Linked DNA regions of Homo sapiens: region 2 is linked to region 1. The links come from fine-mapping of genetic effects on gene expression. Tissue or cell type: whole blood. Region 1 holds a variant in brackets; the other region holds the start of a gene. All regions are shown on one strand. Distances are from middle to middle.

The links. PIP is the estimated chance that this variant, and not a neighbour inherited with it, causes the effect.
Region 2: it holds the start of LINC02937, and the variant in region 1 is fine-mapped to the expression of LINC02937 in whole blood (TOPMed, PIP above 0.99).

What each region holds. Positions count from the first base shown.
Region 1 is chr9:91,155,299-91,159,682 of GRCh38, forward strand. The region is part of intron 1 of LINC02937 (long intergenic non-protein coding RNA 2937); the gene reads right to left. All of the region lies in intron 2 of LINC00484 (long intergenic non-protein coding RNA 484), which reads left to right. Among named protein-coding and RNA genes, the nearest start is that of LINC02937, 5.8 kb to the right of the region's middle. The variant T/A (reference allele first, on the strand shown) is at 1,788.
Region 2 is chr9:91,161,087-91,165,470 of GRCh38, forward strand. LINC02937 (long intergenic non-protein coding RNA 2937) reads right to left here and starts at 2,194. Exons shown (of 6, transcript NR_184105.1): 1 at 1,919-2,194. The region is part of intron 2 of LINC00484 (long intergenic non-protein coding RNA 484); the gene reads left to right. RefSeq lists enhancers at 2,154-2,203, 3,601-3,895.

The DNA of each region.
Region 1 (4,384 bases):
AGGGGCTCTGCCCATCACAGTCACTTAGCACCTCAGTACCTCAGCACTTCTCCACTTGTGGGCTGGTTGGGCTTCCTTGCAGCATGGTGGCCATGCTCGATCAGGGCAGTCAGACTGCTTCCACGGTGGCCCAGGAGTATTCCAGAGAGCCAGCAGGAAGCTGTCACCTCTTCATGACCTGGCCTTGAAAGTTACGTAGCATCACTCCACCGTAACTTTGGTGGACAGGCCACTAAGTCAGGCCCAGAATCAAGGGGACCAACACTGACTCCACTTCTCGGTGGGTGGAGCTGTAAAGCCACCTCACAGGACTGTCATGTTATTTATGAGCTAATATCTGTAAAGTGCTGAGAACCATTCCTCACAGTAATGCAATTTATACAAGTGTTTCTTAAAGAAAGCATACTGCTCATGGATTTGAAAATCATGTCTCAGTAAGCTAACTCCCTGTTTGATATCCAGAACATTCCTGCATCACCCAGTGGGGGAAGCACCAAATCCTGTTGCTCTTTCACTGCCATGCAAGTGCCTGGCCATGGAAGTTGGAGTCAGAATCCTTGTCACACCTTCCAAAAGTTTCACCAGAGGTTCAGAGAATCCAGAGAGGGCTGGATCTCCACCCTTCCAGGGAGAGGGAACAAACAGTGGGCTTCAGCAGCCTGACTCAGGAGCAAATTCCTAGATGACTCTACCTGGAACATGGCACACTGGGGCTCAGGGCTGTGAAACTCAGAGCAAAAACAAGGCCAGTGTTGACTGAGGCTCTCACCCTCCACTGCACGTTCAAACCATCTGGAGACCCTCAGATGGCTCCACACCTGGCCTCTCCCCAGGCAGAGCTCTGAAGTGGGACCTGGGCTTCAGAATTCTGAAACCTCCCAAGCGATTTCAAGACACACCAAAGCCTAAAAGTAACTGAAATGATGGGTTTCCGACGCTCCTGTGCTTGCGAGTCACTTGGGGACCTTGTTAAGATACAGACTCTCACTCAGTGGGGCCGGCTGAAATTCTGCATTGCTAGCAATCTCCTGGCAATGTTCATGCCTCTGGTCTGTGGACCACGCTTTGAGTAGCAGAAAAATAGAGCAGCATTTCTTAGTCTTGTCTTGTCTTTTTAACTCTATGCTTCCCACTGATTAATGTACAAATCCCATGCCTTCTTTTAATATTATTTGAAAACTGCACAGTAAATTAAATATTGCAACTAAAACCAAGTGTTAATTTGAGGGGACAAAATTCTGCATTGTTTGCACAACTCACTTCTGGGCCTTCCCATCCCACCAACACCTACAATCTGGGAAAACACCCTGTTGCAAAAACAACTGGAGGTGGCACCCATCCGGCTTCACCCAGGTTTCCACCGGCTCCTTCACCCGGCACCTAAAGGACTCACCACCCACCCCCTATTGGGGTCTTGCTTCACCCATCAACAAGCAAGATAATGTCAGGTGGCCTCGAAGGGCCTTTCCAATATCACTAGGGACTTTTGATCTTAAATCATCTTTTAATCTTTTCCATCCCATGGATCCTCGGCCTCCTCTGTGACTTCCAGGAAAGAAGCAGGCCTCCAAAAGCATTTTCTACCACAGGCACTTGTGCCTAGGGACTTTCCTGACAAGGACATGAACAGGCACATCAGGGTTGGTGACCACACCATAAGATGCTGGCAGGAACAAGGCCTAGGCCAAGGGTTGAGGAAACTATCTATAAGGGCTAGATGGCCTCTCAGGCTCTGCTGTGAGCTCACCACTATTCGGCTCCACCCCTGAAGCACAAAGAGCCACAGA[T/A]GGTGTGTGAACAAAGGGTGTGACTGCGTTCCAGTAATATTCACTTCACAAAAACAAGCGTTGGGCCGGATTTGGCCCACAGGCTGTAGTTACCGGAGAGCAGTGCTTCTCAAACTTTAATAGCACAGAGATCACTCAGGGATCTAGTTAAAATACAGATTCTGAGAACATGGATTTGAGTGCAGCACTGTCCAACAGAAATATGATGGGGCCAGGCAAGGTGGCTCATTCCTGTACTCCCAACACTTTGGGAAGCTGAGGCAGGAGGATCACTTGAGCCCAGGAGTTCAAGACCACTTGAAGCAATATAGTGAGACCCTGTCTCTATTAAAAAAATAAAAGTTAAAAAAATTGACCGATCAGGGCAGATCACCTGAAATCAGGAGTTCAAGACCAGACTGGCCAACATGGTGAAACCACGTCTCTACTAAAATAAAAAAATTTGCCAGGCATGATGATAGGTGCCTGTAATCCCAACTACATGGGAGGCTGAGGCAGGAGAATCGCTTGAACCTGGGAGACGGTGGTTGCAGTGAGCCAAGATCACACCACTGCACTCCAGCCTGGGCAGCTGAGCGAGACTCCATCGCAAAAAAAAAAAAATTAGCTGAGTGTGGTACCACACGCCTGAAGTCCCAGCTACTTGGGAGGGTGAGGTGGGAGGATCACTGGAGCCCAGGAGGTCAAGGCTGCAGTGAGCTAAGATTGCACCACTGCACTCCAGCCTGGGTGACAGAGCAAGACCCTGTCTCAAAAAATAAAGAAATATAATGGGAGTCACATATGAAGTTTAAAATTTCCTGGTAGAGACTTTAAGTTAAAAAAAAAGTGAAATTAATATTAATAAGATACTTTATTTAATCGAATATACCCAAAAGAGTATGCTTTCATCATGTGGCACTAACCACATTTCCAGTGGCCATAGTCATGGTTACACAGGATCAAGCCTGAAAGCCTGCATTTCAGACAAGCTCCCAGGTGACAAGAATGCTGCCAGTCCAGGGACCTCACTTTGTAGGAAGGGCCCAAAGAATGCTATCTTCTACCTGGGCTGGTGAGACAGCTGTGGAGCTTCCACACAATTTTCTACAGGACACTTGGCAAACTGAATATGTATCCTAAGATAGGAATGCTTGAAGTCACATCTTAGGGAACATCCAGCTCATTGATACCATCCTTGTGCGTGATTATCAAGTAATCTTTCTCAAACACTCTCACCAGGTATTTTACACAAAGCCCAGTAAATGGGGGCCCTGTCTCCTCCATATCACACAAAGGAAATGACATGTGTGGATAAGGAATGACAGGACAAGTGTGTGCTGGCGCCATCCACGGCCTTTACACTGGCCTCTCCAAGAAGTTCACAGTTCCATGAGCGAGGCTTAGGAATTCCCATTTTACGGAGGAGGAACCAATCTCCAAGCTTAAGAAGCTGCAGCTAGAAATGAGCAACCCTGTGCCTGAGGCCCAAGTCCATCCATTTCCAAAAGGCTAGGCTCATAATCCAAGGAGTGCAGCATACAAGATGCCGCCAGGCATGAGTCACAGACATTTCTATTTCAATATTTTTAATAGAACATCTCCAGTTTATCAAACTCGTGATATGTCACAGACAAAATTGCTTACCTTAAGCTGAGGATTATTTTAAGAATCTGTTTCAATTTTATTTATTTTTTAAGCCAAGAATTTCCAGTTTTTATTTCTATAACATGACTTAACAAGAAAAACATTCCCCCAATTTTTTAAAAATTAGGTTGGATTAATTTACAATATATGAATCAACTTAAAATATCAGCCCTTTTATTTAGAGCCAAGGATGCTATTTTAACAGCAGAATTGCACCATTGATACTTTTACCTATATTTGATGGCACAGATATGCAAAAGTCATACGACTTCCACTGACACCCTCTCCTCCCTCCAGAGTAGCATTCACGTAATTTATCTTAGGTCAGTTACAAGTTATATGTAAGAAATGGTTAAGTGGGCTGGGCATGGTTGGTGGCCCATGCTTGTAATCCCAGCACTTTGGGAGGCCTGGTGGGGGGTGTTAGGTGGGGGGAATCGCTTTGAGCCTAGGAGGTCAAGGCTGCAGTGAGCTATGATTGCCCCACTGCACTCCAGCCTGGGCACCAGCATGAGACCCTGTCTATAAAAGGGAAGGGGAAGGGGTGGGGCAGGGGAAGGGAGAGGAAGAAAGGAAGGAGAGAAAGAAAAGGGAGAAAGAGAGGGAAAGAAGAAGGGAGGGAGGGAGGAAAGAAGGAAAAAAGGAAGGAAGGAAAGAAAGAGAGGAGGGAAGGAGGGAGGGAGGGAGGAGAGAGGAAAGAGAGAAAGAGGAGCGAAGGAGGGAGGAAGGAAGGAAGGAGAGAGAGGAAAGAGAAAGAGGAGGGAAGGAGGGAGGAAGGGAGGGAAGGAAGGAAAGAGAGGAAAGAGGGGAGGAACGGAAGGAGGGAAAGAGGGAAGGAAGGAGGGAGGGAAGGAGGGAGGGAGGAAGGAAGGAAGGAAGGAAGCTAAGCAATATAACCCTGTGGCAACATTTGTAAAAGTGACTCTGAGAAGACAGAAAGATCCTCTATGAGAGACTGGTGTCCCCAGGAA
Region 2 (4,384 bases), 5.8 kb after region 1:
GGGAGGACGGCGATGAGGATCAAAACCCCTGGGTCCTTCCTGCCTCTGCGCCTGCCAGCAAAACAGCTCCATGAGTCCAAGGGCAGCTCAAGGGCAGCTCAAGGGCAGGCCACGGGAGCCACAGGTCCTGGCCATACAGCAAAAACATACGGAAGCCAGGGCAGTGCAGACACAGCAACAGGACAGAGGGGCCTGGCTGGAGCGCCAATGCCAGGGGTCTCTCAAGGCCCGCAACACGGTGTCCTTCTTGGACTAGAGTCTCAGTTAAATAACAAAGAGGGGATCTGATGACGTCCACGTGGGCTTCTCCCTGCCTTTGGTGGCGCCCCGGCCCTCCTGTGCGTCCTCCTGGCCCTGCTCAGATCCTAGGAGCCATCACACACTCAACATCCCCAGGCAGCACCAGCACCAAAGCCCCTCATTCCATAGCCCTCTAACACCTGGCTCAGAGTGAGCTCAGCTTCTTTTCTTCACACATGTCTTCATGGCAGCAAGGGAATCAAAAACTCTCCTCCTGGCCACCCACGGAAATGCAGCTGTCACCAGATGGAAAAGGAGGAGAAGATGCAGTGGGCTTGGGTGGTCCCAGGTGGCCCCTGGCCGGACTCTTTCCCTCAGTTGGGGGACAGAGGCTGATTGGAAGAGCACCTCCTTCCCAACGCTTGAGGACAGGGCCTTCCCTGACACCTGTGCCTGGGCTGGTCTTCTGCACCCTTAGCCTCAAGTAGCCTCAGACCACTGCAGTGCTGTTGAGGGTTATCCATAGCGTTTTTTTCCTGTGCTTTGGGTCTCCTTTGCCATCTGCAGCTGGACTAGGGGTCTTGGATTGCCAGGGAGGCTTCTGTGAAGTGGGCTGAAGAGAGCCCTTCCTCACTCGGAAGGCACAGCACAGCCCCGCCGCATTTATAAGTGAAAAGGGAGACCCCACTGTGATGGGGATCCTTCTGCCATTCCCCCAAGACCCCGGGATTGATGAGAGGCATTCAGAACTGCAAGGGGCATGAGGGGGCTGTCATGTCCTTGTCTGGGCGGCCTCCCAGGCTCAAATTGCTGCCTGAGAACAGGTGGCAGAACATTCCTGAATATTTAACCCTTGGCTCGCAAGAGTGCAGGAATGACAGTTCTGTGCCTGAGGAAAAGATTCGTGTCACTCGCACCTCACTTAGGACAACTCGTGCTTTACAGAAATTTACTAATGTTAAAGAATGATTTGTGGTTTCTTTGCTCAAATACAGGAAACTGACTTTTCTCAAAAATGAACTCTCCCTACCAATCTGCACCATGAAATTATTTCAGCAAACAAAAAATAATGGTTGCCCATCACCGCACACTGCGTGTGACTCAGCCATCACTCACAGGCAAAGAAGGGTGTTCTCTCCTCTCCCTGTCAGTTACTAATTCTCTGTAAATGACCATTTGACATCCTGGCCGGGGAGGATTCAGATCAGAGATGACTTCCCCACTGCCACAAAGTATGGTTCTGGGAAGGACAACCAGCCCCAAGGCCACGAAGATTCTGAAAAAGTTTCTTCTCATTTGAAGTCCAGTATTTCCTCGGCCCCATTTTTCTGTTAAACAATCCTTTTCCCTTGGAGATTGCTAAAGCTTAGCTCCAGGGCCAGCCTAAGCTCCAGCAGAACTGGGAGCGTCTCCTGTGTCTACATAGCTCCCTTCCCTCCTGCCTTCCTACTATCAAAGGAGAAACAGCGTGTAATTTGATTTTTTCCCCTTCTCCTCACTTGCCATACTGTGTTCTTTGCCTGGGCCTGTGCCTCTCCTTGCAGAGGCTGTGGACAGGAGCACCGAGAGCCACTTCCTGGAGCATGCTCCCCACCCCCGCAGCCTGTGGCTTCAGCCTCTGCTTCTGCAGACAGCGGTGGAGGAAGTCAGGACTGTCCCTTCTGACCTGAACACCTACCTCCAAGTCCTCCCTGTCGCCACAGAGACCCGGCAATGCAAGTGAGTCCTGTTTGACCTCGTCAATCATCGCAGACTGTAAAGGTGACTCGGATGCTCAAGAAACGAGCATACCCAGCAGTGGGCCCCAGACTTCTCGCAGGCCCAGGTCCTCCTGGGTGCACAGAGACCTACCAGACAACGGTCCGGCTGCACTGGTGTTGTGAGATGCCTGTGTCAGAAGACACTGAGTTCCTCACTCGCCTCCTATCATGCCGATGATCACAGGAGAAAGAGCAGGGCACATGCATGCCAGCATGCTGAAGGGAGGCCAAAACCCATGCTTGAAAACCACAGGTCCTGTTCTAGGAGCAGGAGATATATTTAGCCAAGCAGGATGTTTGTGGGTAAACCAACATTTTGCTGTAAATAAAATTCTGCAAACTCGGGACTTTGAGAATTGCAGAAGCTTACTTTGCCTGCGTATTGGCAAGAGAGCTATTTTCCTAACACAAGCTCACCATGACCCTCATTCAGAGATGCGCTTGACGCCGAGGGTGGTGCCTTTTCGCTAAGGGGTGCTGTCAGGGGATTGAGTAGGAGCCTGAAGAGCTAGGAGTATCTTCTCCCTGGGCAGACCAGCAGGCAGACCCTGTCCCTTCACACTACAGTGGCACGTGATGGGCCCCACTGCCCACCTGGTTCTGGTGTCCAGGCTGAAGTCCTCGTGTGACACTCCAAACTGTTCTGGCAAGGAAGGCTCACGGGTTCTGACCTACACTCTGAAACTGACCAGTAGTGATAAACTCCGCATGGACTTCAGCCATCATTGCGTACGTAAGAAATACGTGTTGCACACAGAGTGCTTCTCTACATTCCCAGGTTTGCCACTCCCCGACTTTTGCTGAAGCAGGTTTCTACTCCATCAGTCCCACAGATGTGTTCACAGGGCCAGCACTGAGTGTGGTGCTGGGGAAGGCATGTGCTTGGAGGCAGCCCTGTGAGATGGCACAGCCTAGGGGAGGAGTCGTGGTGGGGAAGACCCTGGCCACGCATGATAGAGGAAGCGTGGCCACACAGTCTTTGCTGTCCCTGCCACAGCATGGTGCTGTAAGTCTCCTCCTTCCGAGTCTGTGCAGACTTATGTGACACATTTGACCCAACAGAAATGCAGCATTTGTGGTGTGTGAAAGTTCCAGACCAGGCCACAGCGAGCTCCGTGGCTTCGGCTGTGTCTCCTGGAGCACTTGCTCTCAGGACCCCCTCTCTCAGAGCCCAGGCACCACGCCGTGAGAGAGCCCCAGCCACAGAGACAGGCTACGTGTAGGTGCTTTCATCAAAGTGCCACCTGTGCCTCCCCGCAGCAGTGTCAGGCCACCAGCTTGGACAGGCAGCTCCAGCCTCCAGTGGAGGCTTCAGAGGACAGCATCAAACAGCATCCACAAAGGAGACCCACCTTGTGAAAAGCGCCTAGCCAAGCCCTGCCCAAATCCCTGGCCTGTGCAATTGTGAGCAAAGCAATTCAATTTGGAGTGGTTTTATGCTGCAGTAGGTGACCAAAGCACTATGGAAGTGAATATCAGGAGCCCCTCACTGGGATGTCAGAAGACATTCAAGGAAGGTTTCCTGGAAGATTTAGTACCTCAGGTGGTACAGGAGAAGGTGAGATGGAGAGAAAGCAACCCCAGTCTGAAGACGCAGTGGTAAGAAAGGGTCATTCCCCTGGGCATGTGTGGTCTGCTGGGGGATGACAGCCGAGGTGAACTTGAAGCAGAGGACACTCAGACAAGCTGCACTCTGAATCCCGCTACGCTGACCGCAGCACTTGCTGAAGAAGCCGCCTCGCCACGCCCAAGCCCTGCAGAGGGAAGGACTGAGGAAGGCAGCTCAGAGGCCTCAGGCAGCCACAGTGTGCATGCTTGTCTATGACTCACAGCTACGACGTGGCCTGTGCTGCTGCAGCTGCTGATAAGCCTCAAACCTCATATACCACTCTCTTCCGAGGATTTTTTAAATACACAAAACTGGGAGTGAGAGGGGTATTTAATTCCCCTACTAACACATGTTGGGCGCAGCTGGAGCAGCCAGGCCCACTGTAGCTGGGAAGATGCGGTGCCTTGAGGTGCAGGCACTGCTCACTGCCACATGTGAGCACAGGTTCTGAGGGTGAAAGGTCCCTGGTATCTGGCCAGAGTGTTAGACTCTGGAACATAAGAAGCCCCCGAGGTGGTGGAGAAGGTCTAGCCAGGCTCCAGACTGGCTTCACAGAGGTAATGCTTTTTGGTTTGAAATCCGTAAGAGCGCACTACAACTTCAGGGCAAGCTCCAACAGTGCTTCTCAAACTTTAATGAGCACCCAAATCATCAGGGGGCGCGGGGGCAGTGGGTCGCTTACTAAAATGAAGATTCTGCATCAGGAGGTCTGGGGCGGTGACACGATTCTGTGTTTCTAACACGTTCCTGGGTGAGGCTGAAGCCACTAGTCCAT